2 separate regions of the Homo sapiens genome follow, and region 2 is linked to region 1. A link means that fine-mapping ties the variant in region 1 to the expression of a gene that starts in the linked region. Tissue or cell type: blood mononuclear cells. Region 1 holds a variant in brackets; the other region holds the start of a gene. All regions are shown on one strand. Distances are between the middles of the regions.

Evidence for each region. PIP is the estimated chance that this variant, and not a neighbour inherited with it, causes the effect.
Region 2: it holds the start of NINJ2, and the variant in region 1 is fine-mapped to the expression of NINJ2 in blood mononuclear cells (TOPMed, PIP above 0.99). The same link has a PIP of 0.9 or more in lung.

Annotation. Positions count from the first base shown.
Region 1 is chr12:617,612-625,790 of GRCh38, forward strand. All of the region lies in intron 1 of NINJ2 (ninjurin 2), which reads right to left. Among named protein-coding and RNA genes, the nearest start is that of NINJ2-AS1, 9.2 kb to the right of the region's middle. RefSeq lists enhancers at 5,358-6,102, 6,103-6,846. The variant C/G (reference allele first, on the strand shown) is at 4,246.
Region 2 is chr12:658,996-667,174 of GRCh38, forward strand. NINJ2 (ninjurin 2) reads right to left here and starts at 4,450. Exons shown (of 4, transcript NM_016533.6): 1 at 4,333-4,450. The coding sequence starts at 4,365. RefSeq lists an enhancer at 7,648-8,147.

The sequences.
Region 1 (8,179 bases):
AGCTCCCCCAGGGCTTTCCTACACAGAAGGCCGGCTGGCTGAGCACTCCCAGCTGCAGCCCCGCTGGCGTCGCCGTGTTTTCTGTGCTCTGCGCTCACTCCCCAGGACGTTCTGGTTTCCTCATCTCAGCTCTCTTTGTTTAGCCACAGAGATTGGGCAACTTCTGTTGGGCAGCGAGGTCAGGGCCCTGCCTCCTAAGAAGGGGCCTCTCCCTCACAGGTCAGTCTGAAGTCACTTGTTCTCCAAGCCCTTGCTCACCCCAGGGCCCTGACACTCAAGTCCATCCAACACCAGGTGCCTCTTTCTCTGGGCACTTGGTGCCCAGGTAAAATTTTCAGATATTATTGCTGTTTTTAACATTATTCAGTGAATAACGTACTCTGGTGGTCTGAAAGGGATAAGGGGGGATTCTGATTTACGGATTTAATGTCAGACTGCATAAAAGCCTCCTCTCTCTCCTTCGGAAGTTTTCTAGGGTGCTAGGTGGCAGCAACCCTGTTCTGTCAATAGGACCATCTGAACCCGTAGGAGCTCCTTGCTGGACAATGCCAAAGTGCGGCTGCAGTATGTGGTTAAAAGTCCCGTGGAGAGTTGGTAATGAGGAGGTGGGGGTGAGGAGTTGGTAATGAGGAGGTGGGGGTGAGGAGTTGGTAATGAGGTGGGGGTGAGGAGTTGGTAATGAGGTGGGGGTGAGGAGTTGGTAATGAGGTGGGGGTGAGGAGTTGGTAATAAGGTGGGGGTGAGGAGTTGGTAATGAGGTGGGGGTGAGGGGGGAGTGTTGAGAAGGCAGTATGCCACTCTGGAACCCCAGAACAGCATTTTAGGACTCAGGGCCCAGAGGCGTTTTAGGACTATGGAAACTTACCACAGGAAGGGCTTTAGTAATCAGTTGTGCCTGATCTGTCTATTTTACAGAGGAAGAAACTGAGGCTCAGAGAGGCATATAACCTACCAGCAGGCTTTGGTTAGTGATCTGGGTTGACCCAGTGAAGGTCAGTCTGACAGCACTGTGGCCCAGGGCCCTCTCAGTCATGGCACCAGAGCCTCGGGCTCCAAGGAGACTGCAGTTTTGGATCAGGAGCCGAATTGCCTCTTATCGCAGAAGTTCTGTCTCCATCTGCAGGGAAAAGGAGGCTCTTGGCCTCCCAGGGTAGCAAAAGGCAAACACACTTGGTTACCGGGAGCCCTTGAGAAGGTGGCAAGAGTGGAGAAGAGCAAACACCCGACTCCCTCCATCTCTGGCTTTGGCTCTAGACTCAGATGGTTTAGAGCCAAGGCCTCCAATGGCCTCTCAGAGCTCTCAGAGAGCCCTGTTCAGGTGCAGAAAAACTGGTCTCGTGTATTCTCCATGGGTCCCCACAAACAACAGATTATCAGAAAGGTCAGGCTTCTTTCTGACAGGGGCAGCAAAACTAAATCCCAGAACTTCTAAAGGTCACGTGCCTTGTGGAGAAATAGTTGGGGAGTGAGGTGCCCGCAATTTCTTTTGAGGAGAGCAGTGGCTAGAAGGAATGGTCCAGGAGGGGGGCAGTTTATTGTCAGGACCATTGGATGGAGTCCAGCAAGTATTTATCAGGAGTTGATGGTGTGTGCAGCCCCAAGCTGGGCACTTGGGGTAGGGGATGGAGAGTATGTTTAGGACTTGGCCCCTGCTTACAAGGTGCTTGCTGGCAATATAAGATTCTCATATGTGATTCAAAAAAGAGAAAAGGCAGAAGCTATGTTAATGGCCAAAGAGAACATGCTTTAGAAGGAATGAGAAAAATCAGTGTGGGCTCCTCTAGTTCTGAAGAGCTTCATGGAGTGGGGCGATCTTTACACAGCCCCACACCCTGCAGTCAGTGTGTGAACTGAGGAGAGAGGTGGGAATGAGCATAGGAACTCACCCTTTCTAACCTCCTTTGTACACAGGCTGTGAGCTAGAATTAGAATGTAAAGAACGCTGTGTCCTCCAAGGGTGGCATATTGCCTGCGGAGTCCTCCTGGGCCCTTGCAGGATGTGGCCAAGATGCTTGGTGCTGCAGATAGTCTCCCGGAAGAGAGGGGCTTACACATTCTTGGTAAGCTGTGGCTGGGTTTAGAATGATTCCTTGGGAAAAGGGGTAGCAAAGTAACTTTGTCCTGAAGAAGCCCCAAGTATCCTGAGCCCAGCAGCCTTACATAAAGTAGTATTGCATAGTGACTACCATTTCAGGGTCTGGATTTAGACTTGGCTTTGAGTCCTATCTCTGCAGCTTTTAGTAACTGTGTGACATTGTCATTGACCTCTCTAAGCTTCAGTTTCCTCATCTATAAAGTGAAGATAATATTCCTTAATGGTCAGGGTTATAGTGAGGACTAAGTGAGGGAGGGCTCAGCTGCCAGCTTGGCATCCTCAGCCCATGGCAGCCGTGTCATGGCTTTGTGCTCCAGTTTGTTGCCAGGGCCTGGTGTTTCATGGTTCACTCTCTTGTCTGACTGTTTCCCAGATCAGGCAAGCCCTAAAGCGTCCTTTCATCCCTTTGGACACCTCCTAGTGACGGGAGAGCACAGGCAGTATGGGAGTGGGAAACTGGATGTCATAGCTGAGTGTCCATTCTATAGCTCGTGGGCATCATGCCATGGGCATCTCTTGACATAGTCAAGAGACCTGGATGGAAATGGGCCCCAAACTACTTCACTAGGAGCTTTGTTTTCCTAGACCACAGTTTCTTCATCTATAAAATAAACAGCTTAAATTAGACCAGCGATCCCCGCTTTGCGGGAAGGGGAGAGGGTCTCAGACAGTATGGGGTCCCTGAATCCAGATGCACAGCAAACATTGCCTAGAGAACAAATAGATGATGCGTCTCACACATAAAGCCTGTGCTGTTTGTCAAATGCACAGAGGTGCTGCTATAATTTTTAAGATACATGTAAAAAGTATTACTGAATGCATGGTAGCTTTTTCTCAGCATGCAGTTCTTCATTTGTAGATACTAAAAGTACAATTATGATTACTTGGAAGGATCCAAAAGTGGTTTTGAAGTTTGTTTGTTTGTTTGTTTGTTTGTTTTTGAGACAGAGTCTTACTCTGTCACCCAGGCTGGAGTGCAGTGGCGCAATCTTGGCTCACTGCAACCTCTGCCTCCTGGGTTGGAGTAATTCTCCTGCCTCAGCCTCCGGAGTAGCTGGGATTACAGGTGTGCGCCACAATGCCTGGCTAATTTTTGTATTTTTAGTAGAGACGGGGTTTTGCCATGTTGGCCAGGCTGGTCTTAAACTCCTGACCTCAGGTGATCCACCCACCTCGGCCTCCCAGAGTGCTGGGATTACAGGCATGAACCACTGCTCCCAGCTAAGGTTTTGAAGTCTTAAAGAGGTACTCAGGCTTGAAAAGTTTGGCTACCACTGGATGAGATGAAGGACTTACTCAGCCTCTCCTGGATGTGGCTCCTAATTCCAACCTAACAAACAAGCACTCCTGAGTCTCTAGCTTCACGTCCTTCTTGAAGAAATAGCAGCTACTAGAAGAGGTTCCCCTGTGGCAGTGAAGACAAACTAGAAGGAGAGACAAGTAAGAAAGAGTAGTGTACAACCAGGCATGGTGATTCACACCTGTAATCCCAGCACTTTAGGAGGCTGAGGCAGGAGGATTGCTTGAGCCCAGAAGTTCAAGACCAGCCTGGGCAACATAGAGAGATGCCATCTCTATAAAAAAATTTAAAAAAAAAATTAGCCAGGCATGATGGCACACACTTGTAGTCCCAGCTACTTGGGAGGCTGAAATGGGAGAATTGCTTGATCCTGAGAGTTTGAGGCTGTAGTGAGCTGTGATTGCACCACTGCACTCCACCCTAGGTGACAGGGTAAGACCCTGTCAAAAAGAAAAGAAAGAAAAAGAAAAAAAAAGAAAGAAAGAAAAGAAAAAGAAAAGAAAAAAAGAAAACAGAAAAGAAAAGAGAGAGAGCCTGGGCACAGTGGTTCACAACTGTAATCCCAGCACTTTGGGAGGCCGAGACGGGAGATGGGAGATCAAGAGATCAAGACCATCCTGGCCAACATGGTGAAACCCCATCTCTACTAAAAATACAAAAATTAGCTGGGCATAGTGGCGTGTGCCTGTAGTCCCAGCTACTCAGGAGACTGAGGCAGGAGAATCACTTGAACCCGGGAGGCAGAGGTTGCAGTGAGCCAAGATTGCGCCACTGCACTCCAGCCTGGTGACAGAGTGAGACTCCGTCTCAGAAAAAAAAAAAAAAAGAGAGAGAAAGAATAGTGTGGCCA[C/G]GCACTGTGGCTCACACCTGTAATCCCAGCACTTTGGGAGGCCGAGGTGGGTGGATCACAAGGTCAGGAGTTCGTGACCAGCCTGGCCAAGATGGCGAAACACTGTCTCTACTAAAATTAGCCAGGCATGGTGGCAGGTGCCTGTAATCCCAGCTGCTCAGGAGGCTGAGGTAGAGAACTGCTTGAACCTGGGAGGCGGAGGCTGCAGTGAGCTGAGATCACGCCACTGTACTCCATCCTGGGTGACAGAGCAAGACTGTGTCGGGAAAAAAAAAAAAAAAAAGGCCAGGCGCAGTGGCTCATGCCTGTAATCCCAGCACTCTGGGAGGCCGAGGCGGGCGGATCATGAGGTCAGGAGATCGAGACCACGGTGAAACCCCGTCTCTACTAAAAAATACAAAAAATTAGCCGGGTGCGGTGGTGGGTGCCTGTAGTCCCAGCTACTCAGGAGGCTGAAGCAGGAGAATGGCATGAACCCGGGAAGCGGAGCTTGCTGTGAGCTGAGATCACGCCACTGCACTCCAGCCTGGGTGACAGAGTGAGACTCCGTCTCAAAAAAAAAAAAAAAAAAAAAAAAAGGAAAGAAAGAAAGAAAGGGGCTACCTAAAGAGAGGAAGACAACTTTTATAAGAAACTCTGGGAAATGCTCAGGACTCTATTTGTTTAAAGGCCCTTTTTAAGAAATGCTTGCCACTTCCTAGTATTTGTCATTGTTTCCTACTGCACACGTTTGCAGCATATGGGAAGTGGGAGGAGTTAGAATGTCCTCCAAATTCCCCTGACACCCAGTTCCCACCTTCATCCTCTAGAAAAATGTGTTGCTTTGTTTTGTTTAACTTTTCGGGTCACAGACCCTTTCAGAATCTGATAAAGGTGATGGACCCCCTACCTCACCCTAAATGCAGTCACACACGGATAGCTTTTCTTTTTTTTTTAATTTTAATTTTTTTCATGAATAACTTTTCACATAATTTCAGCAGGTTCATCGCCTCCTGAGTTCACATGGACCCCCTTGGGAATTTATGGACACCCCCGCCCAGGTTAGGAAAACCTGCTCTTGTGTGGGTTGCTTCAAACAAGTTTAAATTTGCCTTCTCCTAGTTGTCCATAGATCTAAGCTTTTTCTAAAAGTCCCATGGAACTTGTAATGAGACCTCTAAATGTCCCATATCCCAAAATGCTGTTGTAGGCTTCTTAGATTTTGGAAGACCAGATCAGCAAAAGACAGCATGCACTCAGGTGGAATATTGCAAAGGTAGACATCAGCTCAAGGCTAGCTTCTCTGGGCAGCTGGTGCAAGGTGAATGGAAGCAAGATAGGGGCTCAGGAACAGAGTCCATCTGAGAGCCAGCACTCCCTCCTGACAGTGACAGTTTTGTAAGTTTCTGTCCTAGGAGCTGTGGGCCTGCAGACCTGTGGTCCTTGAAGTGGAAAGCTGCTCCCATCTCTAGGAAGGATCTCCCAGCCTCTGTCCCCCTCCCCCACTGCTACCCGAGCAGCTCTCCCTTCACCTCAGGCCCTGTGTGACACACCTTTCCCCAGGGTTCCTGCCCCGGCAGCCTGCCCTGTCTGTTAGTGCTGTGAGTCTCTGAATGTACCAGCCAAAATCAGGGAAGGTTTCTTCCCACCCACTCAAAACTTCACTTTTCTCATCATCCAAACTCCGAATCTAAAAGCCTAGTTGTTATTTACCAACTTGCGTCCAAATCCACTCTTGGGCTTAGTTTGCAACCAGCATGTACCCTGGGATGAGTGAGAGGCGACAGGCTAGGAAGGGATCTGGGGTTTATTAGTGACAGACCAGGCTGCTAGGTTTGGCTGAGGTGCCACAATTTGCACCAGGCAAGGGAGGTGAATTCAAATACCAGGATGTTGGGCAATATTTCAAAGAGTGAGGCTGGGCATGGTGGCTCATGCCTGCAATCCCAGTACTCTGGGAGGCTGAGGCAGAAGGATCGCTTGAGCCCAGGAGTTCAAGACCAGACTGGGCAACACAGTGAGACCCTGTCTCTACAAAAAATTTTAAAAGTAGCTAGGTGTGGTTGTGCACACGCCTGTAGTCCCAGCTGCTCAGAAGGCAGAGGTAGGAGGATCGCTTGAGCTCAGGAGGTCAAGGCTGCAGTGAGCTGTGATCACACCACTGCATTCCAGCCTTGGTGACAGAGCGAGACTCTGTCTCAAAAACAAAAACAAAAACAAAAACAAAAAACAAAGAATGAAATTCATTGCTATTACAGCCCTTCCTCTACCCTCACCCTGAACTCTACGTCCCATCCTCTTACTCTACAACCTACTATGCAAATGACTCATTGTTCTCTACAATGTTACCCCACTGGGTTCAATCCTATCTGAGCTTTGTAGGACTCCAAACCTATGTGTAAAGGTATGAGCACTTCAAAGGAAGATTGGCAGGGAAGGCCAATCCTTCTGCTTATGTATTTTATTCTTTGATTTTAAAAATCAATTTATCCAATAGATATTTATGGAGCTCTAACTGGGTTAGGATACTAGTGTATGGGGATACAGAAAAATACAAAGATATACCAGGATACTGGAATACGGGAAAATGTATGAATGAATGAGATCTGGATTCACTTTCAAGGAGCTTGCCGTCTAGTAGAGGAAATGACATACAAATAAGCCACAACACATGGTATAAAAAATATATATGGCCGGGCACAGTGGCTCACACTTGTAATCCCAGCACTTTGGGAAGCAGAGGAGGTAGATGACCTGAGGTCAGCAGTTCAAGACCAGCCTGGCCAACATGGTGAAACCCTGTCTCTACTAAAAATACAAACAATTAGCCAGGCGTGGTGGCATGTGCCTGTAATCTCAGCAACTTGGGAGGCTGAGGCAGGAGAATTGCTTGAACCCAGGAGATGGAGGTTGCAGTGAGCCGAGATTGCGCCACTGCACTCCAACCTGGGAGACAGAGTGAGACTCCATCTCAAAAAAAAAAAAAAAGATGGCTGGGCGCGGTGGCTCACGCCTGTAATCCCAGCACTTTGGGAGGCCGAGGTGGGTGGATCACCTGAGGTAAGGAGTTCGAGACCAGCCTGGCCAACATGGTGAAACCCCGTCTTTACTAAAAATACAAATATCATCCTGGCATGGTCGTGAGCACCTATAATCCCGGCTACTTGGGAGGCTGAGTAATGAGAATTGCTTGAACCTGGGAGGTGGAGGTTGCAGTGATCGTGCCACTGCACTCCTGCCTGGGCAACAAGAGAGAGACTTCATCTCAAAAAAAAAAAAAAAAAAGATATATATATAGATATATAGATATATTTGCCCTAGCTTAGTAACTATCATTAGCAAGTGATATTTAAGCTGGACTCTGAAGGATGGGTAAGAGTTGGAGAGACAAAGATGAGGAAAAGGCATCTAGGTGGTAGGAATGGTATGCCAAGAGCCTTGGAAGCAGCAGGTGGACCTACATGCAGACTAGCAAATAGTTCTATTTGGCAAGAACATAGGGAGAGGGAGTAGACAGAGAGAAGGTCAGAAAGCCAAGGTGAAGTCGAGACCTTGCATTTCAGGCTGAAGAGTAGTTTGGGAATTTCAGGGGAATCACTGAAGGTTTTTGAGTAGAGTTCATGGTGATCATAGCTGTATCCTAGAAAAATTAATTTGGGAGTTCTCTGGAGGCTACGTTGAAGAAAAAGAAAGCATTGGGTAGGGGTATTAGAAGAGGGAACATCTACAGGAGCCTTTTCCAGCAAGCTACTTCTGGTCAACTAAGCCAAAAGGGACCTTGGCCTCCGTTCTCTATGGTCCTCACTGTCTGGACCTCTCATGGACGGTACAGAAAGACAATATAGTTGTTAGGGGCAGAGTCTACTATAAAGTACCTTCTCAGAGCTTGGTCCACCATGTGGAATAATTATATCCAGATTTGTTTTAAAGATTAAATGAGATAGAGTCTATCAAA
Region 2 (8,179 bases), 41 kb after region 1:
TATTACATATATAGTTGCTATTCTCTCTATATATAACTGCTATTATATATTATATATAATATATATATAATATATAACTGCTTATATATATATATGTCTTTAAAAACAATAAAACAAACAAACAAACAAAAACACTCCCAGAGTACTTTGCCTATAGACCTTCTTCTATTCATAAGTGTTTTTACCTCCACTCCCATCTCATTCTATCTGTATCTCGCTCTACTTAACCTGAGCTATACTGAATTTGCATTCGGTTTGGACAAGTCTTAGTTCCTCTTTTGGCAGATCATCTTCACATTTCCATCAACATGCAGCACAGGTGGAAAAAAAGGGGCCAATAACTGGATCTGCCTGGGGAATCTGGAAGCCCAAGAGGAGCTGCATTTTGGGAAGGAGCCAGGCTAGGGGCTTAAACTCTGTACTTGGGGGTAGGGTTGCAACACTGGCTCGAAGGGGAAGAAAGGGATTATCCTCAACCTTTCACACATCCAGACTCTGGGAGATGCGCAGGCTTAGCTCCCTGGCAGGGCTACCAGTGAAGGCAGGGAGAAGGGCAGAGGCTTGGAGGCCACAGCCACAGGCCATAGAACAGAAGGAGCAGCTCCAGGCATCCAGCTGGTGGAGGCCACCTGCCCTGAGTGCTGTGCGCCACTCTTCACAGCCAGCTGTGCTGCTGCTACCCATCCCAGTCTCACAGGTCTTGACCTGGAGATACATTTGCAACATTGATTATAGAGGCTCAAGTTAATGTTATTTTAGATTAGAGTTTCCCAAACTTCAGTTGTGCCATGTTCAGGGTTTCAACGTCTCAGTGCAGTAGTAGGTGCGGGCACACACACCTGTGATCCATGTCACCCAGGGCTGCCGTACTTCTGAACAGGTCAGACAGAAACAGTTACTAAGACATTGAGGGTATGCCCAGGTCATGTGCAAGGACTGTATAAAGGTGTCAAAAAACTTCCTGCCACTTACTTGAGGCTCATCCTAAGCAATAAAAATGTTGGAATTGCCTGGACATGTGGCTCATGCCTGTAATCCCAACACTTTGGGAGGCCAAGACAGGAAGATCACTTGAGACCAGCAGTTAGAGACCAGCCTGGGCAATACAGTGAGACCCCAATCACTAAAAAAAGAAAAAAAAAATTAGCTGGGCATGGTAGTGCACATGTGTGGTCCCAGCTATTTAGGAGGCTGAGGCAGGAGGATAACTTGGGCCCAGGAGGTTAAGGCTGCAGTGAGCCAAGATTGCACCACTGCACTCCTGCCTGTGTGACACAGCAAGATCCTGTCTGTTAAAAAAAAAAAAAAAAAAAAAAGGAATCACAGGTCTGATAAGTTGTTATGCTTTCTTTCTTTTTTCTTTTCTTTTTTTTTTTTTTGAGACAGAGTCTCAAAAGTGCAGTGGCACGATCTCCGCTCACCACAACCTCTGCCTCCCAGGTTCAAGCAACTCTCCTGCCTCAGCCTCCTGAGTAGCTGGGACTACAGGCGTACACCACCACGCCTAGCTAATTTTTGTATTTTTAGTAGAGACAGGGTTTCACTATGTTGGCCAGGATGGTCTGCAACCCCTGACCTCGTGATCCGCCCACCTCAGACTCCCAAAGTGCTGGGGTTACAGGCGTGAGCCACCTAGCCCGGCCCTGTTATGCTCTTTCTAATGAATACTGAAACTATAAAGATGGCCAGCTATGGTGGCTCACACCTGTAATCCCAGCACTTTGGGAGGCCGAGGCTTGTGGATCATTTGAGGTCAGGAGTGCAAGACTAGCCTGGCCAATATGATGAAACCCTGTCTCTACTAAAAATATGAAAATTAGCCAAGTGTGGTGGTACATGCCTATAATCCCAGCTACTTGGGAAGCTGAGGCAGGAGAATCACTTGAACCCAGGAGGCGGAGGTTGCAGTGAGCTGAGATTTTGCCACTACACTCCACCCTAGGCGACAGAGTGAGACTCCATCTCAAAAAAAACTGTAAAAATAAACATTATAATAAAAAGCTGTCAGCCATTGATGTACCTTTACCACCCATTGGTGATAATTGTACCACATTTTGGGGAAACATTGTTTTAACTAAAGAGTGTTATTGTTTTGTTTTTAGAGATAGGGTCTGGCTCTGCCGCCCAGGCTGGAGTGCAATGGCATGATTGTAGCTCACTGCAACCTTGAACTCCTGGCTTCAAACAATCCTCCCACCTCAGCCTCCCGAGTAGTGGGGACTACAGGTGCATGCCACCATGCCTAGCTAATTACTTTTAAATTTTTAATAGAGATAGGGTCTTGCTATGTTGCCCAGGCTGATCTCTAGCTCTTGAGCTCAAGTGATCCTCCTGCCTCAGCCTCCAAAATGCTAGGATTACAGGCGTAGGCCACCGTGCCCAGCCAAAGGTGGACAATAAATTGTAGAAAATAATGGATAACCTTCTGAGCAAAGGAAAATGTAAGATACAAGAATTAAATAGCATATTAGAAGAGAGTGAATGACAAATGAAGAGAAAGGTACACTAACACCTCAGTTACCTGCTAGAGAGAGACATTCATCCAGCCTAGCCAGTCATTTCCTTCTCCTTCCTCCCACCACCTCTTTCCTTCTGAACCTCTGGTTCAGATGCAGAGTCCTTAGCCTGTAACTCTGGATCGTTCAACCCATCAGCACATAAGAAACTTGCTCTTCTGAGAATGAAAATAAGCAGCAACACAATTTCCTTAACAACCAAGGATCTTATAGAGGCAAGAACTAGAAGTAAGAAGAAAACACATACTAGGGACAGAAGACATGGACTGGAGGTCTTGGGCCAATTAGGTGACCTTATTCCTATCTCAGAGCCTCTCCAACTCATGGCTTCCTCAACTCATTCATTTAACAAATGTTTTCTAAAGCAATGACCGTGTACCAAGAGTTGCCTCATGCACTCGGGCTGCAGCAGTGAATAAAACAGGAGAGGCCCTGCCCTCAGAGATCTTGTGTCCTAGTGAGAGTGACAGGCAATACATACTAAATAAATAAGCAGTGTAACTTTAGGTGGTGAGCAGTGCTATGAAAGAAATTAAACAAATGATAAAGACAAATTGGGGAGGAGGCATCCTGTGAAGAGGTTGGTCAGGGGAGGGCTCCTGGGGGAAGTAACATTTGAGCTGAGACCTGAATGTACTAGGAAGGGCCAGCCAGGAGATAAGCCAGGGAAAGAAGGTTCCAGACAGAGGGACAAGCAAGCCTTGCGGTGGGACCGCTCTCGGGGCTGGCTGCCAATCCAGGAAAACAGCACTGGGTATGCAGTTGTACTAGGTGAATGGTTTTGACACAGCACACCAAGCAGTCCTACAGTTCCCTGGTGGTGTCTCAAGGGCGGAGGGGCCAAGGACAGAGACTCTGCCAGACTCACGCCACCCTGCCCAAAACACACACAGAGAACGAGAGAGAGAGAGAGAGAGAGAGACGCGTGCACATACTCTGCTTCAACAAAACAGCTCTTCTTTAATCCGAAGTGTATATTGGGTGGCTGCTTAAGATTTTGTTCGAGGACCAGGTTCAGGGATCAGAAATTCTTGATCTCAAAAGTCCTTTTCCACACTTTGTTTGATTCTCTGCAATGTTACACAGCCTCAGCAGTGGTCATAGAAGGGTTCGTTCTATTCTATCCATTGGCAAGGAGTCACAGAGTGCAGCTCCCAGCAATCTGGCTCTCCTCTCACCGTAACATCCCACCCTTTCCCCTCCAGCAGTGGACTGGAACCTCTGATGCCTTCCAAGCCCATCCCAGCTACAGAGGGACACACATCTCTGCCTCTTCCTAGGAGATTAGACTGATTTCCTTTCCTTGCACTGTCCAAATGAGACGCTTTCTGTCCTACACAGTAGAGCTTTGTGAAGACAGCCGAGAAACGGCTCAAGTTTTTTCCAACCTGTAAAATGCAAAGTTGGCCAGCTGCCTCTCTTCCTAGCCTCAAAACTCATATATTTCCTGTCTCCCCGGCAGCTCTAAGAGAAGTCTCTACTGTCCTGGGGTTTGGGGAAAGCACTGCTCAGAATGTGAAATCATTTTCTGGTAATACGGATCTAATTAGCTCTTTGACTGACAAGAGGAAGCAGAGGCCAAAAGGGAGTTAACCAATCTGTTTTTCAGATATTTCAAAACAAGTGAAGAACCAGATAGGGAAACAGAGAGAAAGAGAAAATAAAGAGACAAAGCCTAGGGAGCATTTGGAGAAGGGAGTGAGTAAGAAGAGAACGGGGAGGGAGAATATCAAGTGACTAAAGTATCAATCCTCTGTTCTTCCAGCTTCACCTCTACTCCCGGTCTCCCCTCTGCTCTCTTCCAGAGAGAACTTACTTGAAGGTCGATGTTTTCTCTTGCTGATTCCATCTCGCTGCCCTCAAGTCCCTTCACACGCACCGGGTGCCGGGAACAGACTGCGTGGGCTCCTCCAGGCTCCGCCGTCTGAGTCTCTGCTGCTTTCTTCGGGTGGGAGAGAGCACACAGCTGGCGGGACAGACCTGCCATTCATCCCTCTGATGTGGGATGCCCGTCTTGGCTGCAGCCTCTGGGGGAGGTGTGCACCTGCACACACGTGTGAGTGTATGTGTGTGCACATGTGTGTGCTCCAGGAGGTGGCACATGGCACACTGATAGGTGACCTTTTGAGTTGGTAGTGACAGCATCATTTTCACCAGTGGCTCCAGTGACCTTCCAGTCCCAGCGGAGCCATCTGAGGTCACCCAGCCTGCTTTGAGCTAGTAGCTTTATGACTGGCAAAGAAATCCTGCATGTTTATCAAGCAAATTGAAAAACAGCCTGAGGACAACGCTATCTGACTTCACCGCTGGGTCCAGTCCCCAGTCGCCACGGGTGGAGTGACCTCCAGCACAGTCTCAATACTGAGGCAGAGGGATTTCCGTTGTTCTTTGCTTTGTTCCCTATATCCCTAAAAGTTTTTAAAAAAATTGTAGTTTACCTAATAGGCTCCAAAGCATAGGCTTTGTTCTGCAAAGTGAGTGAACAATACGTTTTTACTGACGGATTGTTTGATTCCTTCAACTCCTCCCTTGATTAGCCATAGAGGGAGCAGGGAGTAGTTGTACCTTCGAAGCTTGTTTATGCAAACAGTGGTATTCTCCCTACTTTTAAAATAAAATTACCAGGAGGGAGTCTTTTTTTAGAAAGTTTTTTTTTTCCTCTCCTGTTTACCTTAGAGCCCAAAACTCTTCTGGCTTGTTCCTGAAGCAAGGTTTAGACACAAGCTTGTGCAGGTGTGGGTGTGGGTATGTCTGTAGACGTGCATGGCAGGGTGTTAACCTGTAATCCAATTCAGGGCTTGAAGAGGTGCGGGCAGGAGGAAGACAGGCAGAGTCAACACGTTTACCCTCACCACATTCAAATGTAAAAAAAAAAAAAGGCGATTTCTTCAGTTCTATGAAATGCCTTTATAAGTTCCCATCCCTCTGGACAGTGGTGCGAGGGAGGGTTGGATGATTGGATGGGGGCCATATTTTAGTCTAATCTATGAAGCATAGTTGGATTTAATCATTTAAATGGTAAACAGTCCACTTTAGACACAATGCTCAGTCTTTCGGATTTGCAGAAGATGGCACCTAGGTGCACAGGAGGGCGGGGTGGGGACGGTTCTTGCATCTATCCTGTGGCCTCTCCATCTCGGCTCCTTTCTGTTCTGGAGCTGCTGGGCCCACGGGCCCGCCCGAATTGCTGACTGCTGAGGAGACACAGGTCCTGCTCCTGGGTCTTCTGCTGGCCTTGGTGGCTGATGTCTGATATTAGGCCAGAGTCACTCATGGGTGATTCTCTTTCTGCCTTTGAGATCCAGTGTTCTCCCTTGCTGTCTGCGCTACCTTGGCTCGTGGCAATGTGGACCATCCTGAGACCTGGCTTTGACTTGTATGTGCCCCCATCCCACTGTATCCGCTCAGTGGCCCACATCTCTAAGATAAGCCCCTCGAAATTTTCCTGTGAGATGCTTGACCAGTGCTCCTGAGCCCCCTTAGGCACATGGGGACTGAGGGCTGCTGACGAAGGGCAGGGGAAAGGCAAGCTCAGCCCCACTTCCAGCAGAGTTTGCTCTGATGTGGCTGCTCCAACTGACACAGGGCAGTCTGCGAGGTGATCTCCTTCCACATTCCTGAATGGAAATGAGACCTGGAACCCACTCTTCTCAGCACTCCTTAAAAAGTCTACCAGTAATATCTATCACCCCACCGCTCATAATAATACCACTATGTATCAAGCACTATTCTAAGCACTTTTTTTTTTTTGAGATGGAGTCTCGCTCTGTTGCACAAGCTGGAGTGCAGTGGCGCCATCTCGGCTCACTGCAACTTCTGCCTCCTGGGTTCAAACGATTCTCCTGCCTCAGCCTCCCGAGTAGCTGAGATTACTTCTTCCCATAGTCCCCTTAATCTAGAATCAGAAAATGTACGCTTTGTCTTCTTTTTTTTTTTTTTTTTCCTGTTTGGCTGGGATGTATCTGATGTAGAACTCTATGACAACAATTCAAAGGGAAATGAAGAAATTTAGAAAATCCTCTCTCTCAAGAAAACCTGGTTGTCAAAAATATTGTCTTGGCTGGGCAGCATGGCTCATACCTGTGATCCCAGCACTTCGGGAGGCCAAAGCCGGAGGATCTCTTGAGCCCAGGAGTTCAAGACCAGCTTGAGCAACATAGTGAGATCCCATCTGTAGAAGAACTTTTTGGCTGGACATGGTGGCTCACACCTGTAATCCCAGCATTGTGGGAAGTAGAGGCAGGAGGTCACTTGAGCCCAGGGGTTCAAGACCAGCCTGGGAAACACAGTGAGATCCTGTCTCTACAAAAAAAAAATTTTTTTTTAATTTAGCTAGATGTGGCAGCTTGCAGCACCTGTAGTCCCAGGTACTTGGGAGGCTGAGGTGGGAGGATTGCTTGAGCCTGGGAGCTGAAGGCTGCAGTGAGCTATGATCATGACACTGTACTCCAGCCTGAGTTGACAAAGCAAGACCATGTCTTAAAAAAAAAAAAAAACTTTCTGGAAAACCTTATTTCGGATGCCAGAAGCAAAATATTAACTATTTATTTCTCTTTGCACTCCTGTTGTGAAAATCCTCATTATCTTTTAAATAATATGGATACATCTGGCTGAATAGAGGGAAACAGGAACAAAAAAATGCAAAAGAGAAAAGTACTCGAATATATTTCAAAAAATTTCCTATTAATAAGCACATTGGTTTGAAAAGGAAACAGCTGTAATTGGTTATAATAATGGTTTTGGTTTGGCAAGATCTTTCTGGATTTGGACCTTTCCCCATCTCATAAGCATCATTTGGAAGTAAACAGAAAAAAGGCTTTGGAAAATGGTTTATCTACCATATCACGCTGTAACCCTGGACCAGGGGTCAGCAAAGTTTTTCTTTTTCATTTTTCCCTTTTATAAAATTCAAATTGCTATATGAAGCTTTTTTAATTTTAATTTTAATTTTTTGAGACGGGGTCTCACTCTGTCACCCAGGCTGGTGTGCAGTGGCACAGTCTCTGCTCACTGCAATCTCTGCCTCCTGGGCTTAAGTGATCCTCCCACCTCAGGCCCCAACCCCCAGCCCAGTAGCTGGGATTACAGGCGCGTGCCACCATGCCTGGCTAATTTCTGTATTTTTTGTAGAGACGGGGGTTTCGCCATGTTGCCCAGGCTGGCCTCAAACTCCTGAGCTCAAGCGATCCGCTCACCTCGATCTCTCAAAGTGCTGGAATTACAGGCGTGGGTCACCATGCCCAGCCAGTAAACTTTTTCTGTAAGGGGCCAGAGAGCCAATATTTTTTAGCCTTTGTGTGTCATATGGTTTCTGCTGCGATGACTCACTTCTATAATAATGTGAAAGCAGTCATAGACAACATGTAAATGAACGAGTGTGGGAGTGTTCCAATAAAACTTTATTTACAAAAAGAGTCAGATATTCATAAAAACAGACCGGAGTTGGCTCCACAGGCTATAGTCTGCTGACCCCTGCTCTAGGATTTAATCAGAGTCTTTGAAGTCTAATTCCCACTTGAGAGGCAACTACTGAGTCTCTACCACGTGGATATTGGGTTAAACACTGCGGGGATATAAAAGCACCACATGCACGCCCTGGTGAGACAACTGATGGCAAGGGAAGCTGTAGTGAAGAGTGTTGCTGCCATTTGGCTGGTGCTGAA